2 linked regions of the Homo sapiens genome follow. The protein of the gene in region 2 interacts with the protein of the main gene of each other region in a pairwise test. Each region holds a gene or a part of one and is shown on either strand. Other genes may lie near its edges.

The links. The genes of interacting proteins can lie anywhere in the genome.
Region 1: the proteins of PDK2 (region 2) and ISOC2 interact in a two-hybrid assay, tested with the Homo sapiens proteins (one large-scale study listed by IntAct).

Annotation. Positions count from the first base shown.
Region 1 is NC_000019.10:55,451,592-55,456,269, reverse strand, and holds the end of ISOC2 (isochorismatase domain-containing protein 2), read left to right. Parts: intron 1-424; coding exon 425-634; intron 635-891; coding exon of another isoform or gene 892-939; coding exon 940-1,010; intron 1,011-1,163; coding exon 1,164-1,281; intron 1,282-2,881; coding exon 2,882-2,962; 3' UTR 2,963-3,285; downstream 3,286-4,678.
Region 2 is NC_000017.11:50,105,351-50,108,850, forward strand, and holds part of PDK2 (pyruvate dehydrogenase kinase, isozyme 2 isoform 1 precursor), read left to right. Parts: intron 1-20; coding exon 21-92; intron 93-534; coding exon 535-719; coding exon of another isoform or gene 720-802; exon of another isoform or gene 803-1,021; intron 1,022-1,443; coding exon 1,444-1,533; intron 1,534-1,725; coding exon 1,726-1,803; intron 1,804-2,805; coding exon 2,806-2,882; intron 2,883-2,968; coding exon 2,969-3,067; intron 3,068-3,261; coding exon 3,262-3,369; intron 3,370-3,500. UniProt on the Homo sapiens protein: Kinase that plays a key role in the regulation of glucose and fatty acid metabolism and homeostasis via phosphorylation of the pyruvate dehydrogenase subunits PDHA1 and PDHA2.

The sequences.
Region 1 (4,678 bases), on a different chromosome or scaffold from region 2:
CCTCCACCCTCAGACCCAGGATCCAGGCTCAGCCCTCCACCCTCAGACCCAGGATCCAGGCTCAGCCCTCCACCCTCAGATCCAGGATCCAGGCTCAGCCCTCCACCCTCAGACCCAGGATCCAGGCTCAGCCCTCCACCCTCAGACCCAGGCGTCCAGGCCCAACTCCTCTTCCTTCAGACCCAGGGATCCAGGCCCACTTCCTCTTCCCTCAGACGCAGGAGTCCAGGCCCAGCTCCTCCTCCCTCAGACTCAGGAGTCCAGGCATAGCCCCTCCTCCCTCACACCCAGGAGTCCAGACCCCCAGCCCCTCCTCCCTCAGACCCAGGAGTCCAGGCCCAGCCCCTCCTCCCTCAGACCCAGGAGTCCAGGCCCAGCCCCTCCTCCCTCAGACCCTGACCTTTCTTCCCCATCACTGGCACAGGTGGCCCGGCTGCTTGAGGTGCCAGTCATGCTGACGGAGCAGTACCCACAAGGCCTGGGCCCCACGGTGCCCGAGCTGGGGACTGAGGGCCTTCGGCCGCTGGCCAAGACCTGCTTCAGCATGGTGCCTGCCCTGCAGCAGGAGCTGGACAGTCGGCCCCAGCTGCGCTCTGTGCTGCTCTGTGGCATTGAGGCACAGGCCTGCATCTTGGTGAGATGCTGACTGACCCCAGGGGTCCCTCGTTCTAACCTGGGACCCCCATCCTAAATAGAACCTCCTTCCCTGACCAGAAACCTCCACTTCCCTGCAGGACCCCCATCCTGACCTGGGCCCTCTCTCCTCACCTGTGGGCCCCATCCTATCTTGGATCCCCTCCTGACCTGGGGGCCCCTTCCTCTGATCCGAGCCTCCCTCCTCCCCATTCTGGGCCCCTAATTCTGACTCACCATCCCCAATTCCTTACCCAGGACCCCCGTTCTTATCCGGGGTTGGCCCTGACCTCTCTCTACCCACAGAACACGACCCTGGACCTCCTAGACCGGGGGCTGCAGGTCCATGTGGTGGTGGACGCCTGCTCCTCACGCAGGTGAGAGGGCCCCTGCCTGGGTGGGTGCACGTGGGGGCCATCAGGGGCTCCCAGGAAGGGCCACAGGCGGCATTCCCACCAGGGTGCCTGCGTGTCTGGGTGTCCAGACTGCGGCGTCCACACCAACCTTCCCTCCCTCCCTCCCACTCACAGCCAGGTGGACCGGCTGGTGGCTCTGGCCCGCATGAGACAGAGTGGTGCCTTCCTCTCCACCAGCGAAGGGCTCATTCTGCAGCTTGTGGGCGATGCCGTCCACCCCCAGTTCAAGGAGGTAATGCCCGCCTGGCCGCCCCCACCTCCCCTGCATCTGTCAAAGGTCTTGTCTTTGGGCTCTGAGAATACATCTCGGCACCAGCAGGCTGCCGCCTCCAGGGGGAGCCAGGTTCTTGGAGGGGAGGCTGCTGGTCACTGTCACTGCCATAAATCCATGAAAGGAGCCCACAGATGGACCATAAGGGCCACAGAGAACAATAAAATGGGGGAGGCAATCCAGAGGGTCAGGGCACAGAGGAGGGGGTTTGTATTGGAGGGTCTGGGGGGCATCCTGGAGCAGGTGACTTTAGAATGAACTGAAGGAGGGAGTGACCAGGCGGACACTGGGGAAGAACAGGTCAGCAGAGACCCTCTAGATAGAAGCCCCTTGACCCGTCCACACCCATCTCCAACTCTCCATCTCCTCCGCCTCTGCCCCTTCCGGCCCGGGTGCCCCTCCTCCAGTTTCTCAGACTCCACTGGCCACCCTGCTACCGGGGTCAGCCAGGTACTGGGCCCCCCTGCTTCAAGCCATTGGCCCTCAGGATGCTGGAGAGGCCCCAGACCTTGACATTCCCAGGCCCTCCCAGGTCTGCTCCTTACCTTCCTTCTAGTTCAGCTCTGTGGGACATTCACCGAGCACCCACTCTGTGCCAGCCACTGTGGTGAGCCCTGGAGTCTGCAGCAATCCATGTTCAGTGACACATTGTGACCCCCAGCTGGGGCAGGAGTTGCAGAGGGATGAGCAAGAGTGGCAGAGGTGGCCCTGAATTCTGAGCTGCCGGGGAAGGGGGCATCAGGCACTCACAGTGTTCCCAGGGGAGGGGGACTGAGCTTTCTTTGAGGAGCTGTAGCAGGCCAGGGTGAGCACCACGCGGGAGGAGCCAGCAGCCTGTCTTCACGCAGGAGTCAGAGCCCAGAGGTTTGAGATTTCAGCCACGGGCAGCCATCAGGGTTTGATGCAGGGGAGCTGGCCATATCAGATCGGCAGTTTACAAAGTTCTTTCTGGCCCTGTGTGACCAGTGGATTAGGGAGTGTGGCATAGAGGGGAGGAGGGAGACCTGTCAGTAAGGAGGTTAATTTGGGCGCCCAGGCAAGCGGTGATGAGGCAGGGGGGATGCAGGCTTTTTTGTTGTTGTTGTTGTTTATTTATTTATTTATTTATTTTATTTTCTGGAGATAAACTTGCTGGGACTTGCTGATGGATGAAATGCGGTTGGTTGCTCATGTCTATCTAAGAGGCAGTTAGATAGATGAGTCGAGTTCAGGGGCAAAGTCCAGGCTGGATTTGTGAGCTGAGGGCCCAGAAGAGGGATGGGAGAAATGAGGTTACTTAAGAAGAGGAAGGTGTAGACAGGAAGCCCCAGCACAGAGCTGTCCACCCTTAGTGGTCCAAGCCCGCAAAGCACACCAAGATGGCAGGCAGTGAGGAGCTCAACCAGTCACGTGTAATGAAAGGGAGGCCCCAGGAAAAGTCTTGAGAAGAGGGAGTGTTGTCTTGGGCAGCTGCTAGCCAGAAGGTCCGAGAGATGAAGACGGAGAGGTGTCCCTCAGATTTGTCATCCATGGAGATCGGGACCCTAGACGCTTCCTGACCCATCGCCCCCTGCCCTTACAGATCCAGAAACTCATCAAGGAGCCCGCCCCAGACAGCGGACTGCTGGGCCTCTTCCAAGGCCAGAACTCCCTCCTCCACTGAACTCCAACCCTGCCTTGAGGGAAGACCACCCTCCTGTCACCCGGACCTCAGTGGAAGCCCGTTCCCCCCATCCCTGGATCCCAAGAGTGGTGCGATCCACCAGGAGTGCCGCCCCCTTGTGGGGGGGGCAGGGTGCTGCCTTCCCATTGGACAGCTGCTCCCGGAAATGCAAATGAGACTCCTGGAAACTGGGTGGGAATTGGCTGAGCCAAGATGGAGGCGGGGCTCGGCCCCGGGCCACTTCACGGGGCGGGAAGGGGAGGGGAAGAAGAGTCTCAGACTGTGGGACACGGACTCGCAGAATAAACATATATGTGGCTGTGGACCAAACCATTCTTGGGTTGGGGGGGATCCCGGGGGCGACTGGGGGCTGCAGGAGGGAGAAAGCGGGGTCCCCAGCAGGTGGGGGGGGGGAGGTGCCTCTTCTCGGCGCGAGGCAAAGGCGAGGGCTGGCGGCTGACACATCTGCACGGACGCGGCGCATCTGCTCGGAGGAGAACTGCGGCCGGGGTCGCCCCCAGCCGGCGCGCGCACGCCCAGCCCAGCTGCCGGCAGACACGCGCTCCGCCGCCGCCTCCGGCCGCCCCCCACGCCGCCACCCCCGGCTCCCCAAGGGTCCCGCATCCGGAAAGCGAGGTGAGCGAGACCGCACCCAGGTGCGGAAGGGAAACTGAGGCAAGGGGACATGGAGACGGGAGGAAGGAAGACACAGCCATGTGGATGGGTGGATGGATGGATGGAAGGATGGATGGACGGATGGAAGGAAGGGCTGAAAGCATTGTAGTCCCGGCTCCCCCAGACGCAGGAGTTCCGGGACCCACATGGGGGCTCCCAGAATTCTGCAGATCTAGGAGTTGGAATCTGCAGACCCCCAGGGAGAGCTCCTCCGTTCCAGATTTGCAGCCCTTGCCTCTTCCCCAACCTTGGAGACCTGAGAGGCCACCCCTGAGTCCTCAGAGACACCGGCGTCAGAGCTGTCAGTCAGCCCGCCCCGCGTTGGGCAATCGGAGCCCCCACCGCCGACCCTGGGAGCCCAGACCCCTCCCAGAAGGTCCGGTCCCCTGGCCCCCAGCGTCGGAGCGCCCAGCATCCCTCTCCCCAGGGATCTAGGAGGAGCCCCTGGGACCGGGCGGCGGCGCCCCCGGCCCCCGCCTTCCGGATCCAGGTGTCCCCCCTCCTCACCCCCCAAGCCCGAAGCCTCGCGTCTCCGAGGCCCCGCGCGCGTCGCCATGGCAACGAGAGTCTATTTTGCGCTGGGAACACACAGCTCCCGCCGCAGCGCCCCCCCACCCCACCAACCCGGGCCTGAATGGGAGTGGGGGACCCGGGAGGGGGCTCGGGGGGCCGGGTCGGGGGCGAGTGGAGACACAGACACTCAGACAGAGATCAGACGACAGCAAACCTGGGACAGAGAAAGAGACGTGGAGCCAGGAAGGAGAGACAAGCGGGATGTGGAGACAGAGGGGTGACGGAGACCGGGCGGGGGAAGGAGGGAAATGGAGGCGCGCAGGGAACTGAGGCTCGGAGCTGGGGACAGCCCGGGACACAGGCGCCGGGACGGAGAGAGACGCGGAGAGAGACGCCGAGATGCGAGGAGACCCGCAGCGACAGACGAGGGCTGAGACCCCCGCTAGAGACAGAGACGGGCGGGGGAGGCGGGGGTCCGGGAGGAGGCGTGGACGGGGCGCCCCGGGACGCGAAGATGCAGAGACCCAG
Region 2 (3,500 bases):
CCCCTCCCGCCCCCACACAGGTATGTCCAGAGCCTCCTGGACATCATGGAGTTCCTGGACAAGGATCCCGAGGACCATCGCACCCTGAGCCAGTGAGTGGGGGCCCTGGGTGGGGCAGGAAGGCAGGTGTTGGCCAGGGGCATCTGGGGTTGCAGCCCCTGGGGCAGAAGTACAGCAGGATGGAAGAAAAGACCCCTGCCTTCAGAAACATCCAGTCTGAGTGGGGAGACAGACTCTGCTTCAGGGAGCCCCAAGTTTGATGGGAGAGACATGGACTCCATTCTCACTGTTCCCTGAGCCCGGTGGGCAAGACCCAGGCCCTGCCATGGGGAGGATGAGAACTCTGGGCTTTCGAGTGGGAAGCCTGCCGGCAGGCAGCTAAAAGATCAGAGTGGGCTTTGGGAGGAGCAGGGAGGGCACTGGGAGTCCATCGGATTGGGAAGGGTAGAGCGGGTGAAGACACCGTGGAGAGGGGAGTCAGAAGCGGAGAAGAGTCTGGGGGTGTCCCATGTGAACATCTGCCCTGCCCCACAGGTTCACTGACGCCCTGGTCACCATCCGGAACCGGCACAACGACGTGGTGCCCACCATGGCACAAGGCGTGCTTGAGTACAAGGACACCTACGGCGATGACCCCGTCTCCAACCAGAACATCCAGTACTTCCTGGACCGCTTCTACCTCAGCCGCATCTCCATCCGCATGCTCATCAACCAGCACAGTGGGTGCCGGCCACAGCGGCGGGGAGCGGGCGGTGGGGGGGGCGGTGCTGGGGCCCAGGGCCGGGCTGCTGAGGGGACCTAGACCACTCTTCAGAACCCCACAAAGGGAGTCTTTGAATAGTTACTCCAGTAACTATGGAGTTAATGGCTCCAACATGGAAAAATAAAATTTTTCTTTCTCATTGATTTTCCATTTCAAAACGTTTTGTTTTCAGTGTTTGCAAAATGTAAAATTATGTCACATCTTTAAAAGAATGTTTAATTTAGTATTTATAAAAACTCTCATTATGTTCAAAAACAATTTGTTGTTTAGAGTTTCTTATTCCAGGAGGATTCACTATGATTTTTGAGAAGTTGTAGCCAGTCATAAATTAAACAAGTTCCTCATGCTCAAATAATTTCCAAAGCAAGGTGGTAAGAGTTCTCTTAGAATGTTATAGTCAAAGAAAAGAATAAATGCAATGTGGAGATGTGATGTGGGGAGAGACCTCTGAAAAGACGTCTGTTTCAGGTTTGCAAAGGTTTAAAAACGGCCTAAGCCAGGGCTGGAGGGGTCAGGGGTCAGGGAAGGGAGGACAGAAGCGGGGGAGTGGGGCAGCTTTAGGACTGGAGCCTACAGAGGCATTGGAGGTGAAAGTAGAAAGAGGAGGAAAGCCCGGGGGAAGAGGGAGCGCTGGGACAGACTGCAGCCCAGCCAACAGCATCCTCCCTTCCTGCCTGCAGCCCTCATCTTTGATGGCAGCACCAACCCAGCCCATCCCAAACACATCGGCAGCATCGACCCCAACTGCAACGTCTCTGAGGTGGTCAAAGGTGAGCCATTCCCACGGTGCCTGGCCCGCAGAGAAGCCCCGGGGACCCCTCCAAGCTTACCTGGCCAGAGGGTGACTCGTTCCTCAGTAAGGGGTGCCATGGATTTAATGCTGGTGGTCCCCAGTATCAATGTCAGGAGGACTGCCTGCTGGGTGGGCCACCCATGCCCTGAATGACCCCATCTTCTCTCAGATGCCTACGACATGGCTAAGCTCCTGTGTGACAAGTATTACATGGCCTCACCTGACCTGGAGATCCAGGAGATCAATGGTGAGTGAGCGGGGCTGTGTATGTGTCTGTCTTGGGGCTGGGGACGTGGCAGGGCAAGGTGAGACGGGGAGTCAGGAGATGGACTGTTTTCTAGACAGGGGAGAAGCAGAGTTATTATATTATTAATTCATTTGATAAATATTTGGGCTGGGCACAGTGGCTCACACCTGTAATCTCAGCACTTTGGGAAGCTAAGGCAGGCCAATCACTTGAGGTCAGGAGTTTGAGACCGGCCTCGGCAACATGGTGAAACCCTGTCTCTACTAAAAATACAAAAATTAGCCGGGCATGATGGCACATGCTTATAATCCCAGCTACTTGGAAGGCTGAGACAGGAGAATCACTTGAACCCGGGAGGCTGAGACTGCCGTGAGCTGAGATGCTACCACTGCACTCCAGCCTGGGTGACAGAGCGAGACTTCATCTCAAACAAATAAGAAATTGAGTGAATGAATGAATGAAAGAGTAAGCAAGACAGAAATGGTCCCCATTCTCGTGGACCTTACATTTTTGGTGCTAGGGAGATTGCGGAATGGAGCCTTCAGCCAATTAACAAGTAAATAAACAAGACCATCTCAGATCATGACAAGTGATGGGAAGGAAATAAAATGGGGTAACTCAACAGGGGTAGGGAGGAGGGGCATGTTAGATGGTGTATCAGCTTGGCTGCTTTCCTAGAACCCCAATACCAGTGGCTTACTTAAGAGGGAGGTTTCCCTCTCGCCAGCCCCTTGCTGGACAGGTCAGGGCTGGCTCCCCACCCCTGATTCAGTTCTAGCCTGGAGGAAGGGAACAAGGGTGTGGAAAGCAGGGCCCAAGAATTGAATGCATCACTTCCATGAGTCACCAGCTACCCCAGCTCAAGGGAGGCTGGGGATTTAGTCTCTCGCTGGGCAGCCATGTACTCAGAACTTTGTGGGAGGGGGTGCCTCCTTTGGGTAAGGTGGTTGAGCAGTGACCTCCTGACGGTTTCCTGACCCTTGGTCTTGACTTGCCCTGTAGCAGCCAACTCCAAACAGCCGATTCACATGGTCTACGTCCCCTCCCACCTCTACCACATGCTCTTTGAGCTCTTCAAGGTGAGGAGGCTGGGAGCCGGTGCTTTGCGGGGAGCGTGAGTAGGGCTGGCTTCTCCCATGCATCTCTTACCTCTGCCCCTCCGCAGAATGCCATGAGGGCGACTGTGGAAAGCCATGAGTCCAGCCTCATTCTCCCACCCATCAAGGTCATGGTGGCCTTGGGTGAGGAAGATCTGTCCATCAAGGTATGTGACCCTTTGACCTTGGGGACCAGGGAGCAGTAGTGGGGGCTTCCCTCCTGCCAGGAGACGGGCTTTCCTTTTCTCCTACATGGTGGGCAGATCCTGGGGGTGGGGAAGACCATGAGAAGGTCAGGGGTATTGGGCGGGGTGGGGAAAATGAGCTGTAAAGAATCCCTGACACATCCCATCTCTCCCAGATGAGTGACCGAGGTGGGGGTGTTCCCTTGAGGAAGATTGAGCGACTCTTCAGCTACATGTACTCCACAGCACCCACCCCCCAGCCTGGCACCGGGGGAACGCCGCTGGTGAGATGGCTTCACCCCAGCCCCTCCCACCTCCTGAGGGAGGCTTCTCTCCTCACTCACTTCCTTATCTCCCTGCTCACTCAGCTTCTGTGTGGCCGTCTGTGACAGTCACCTGTCTTGAATCTGGGCCC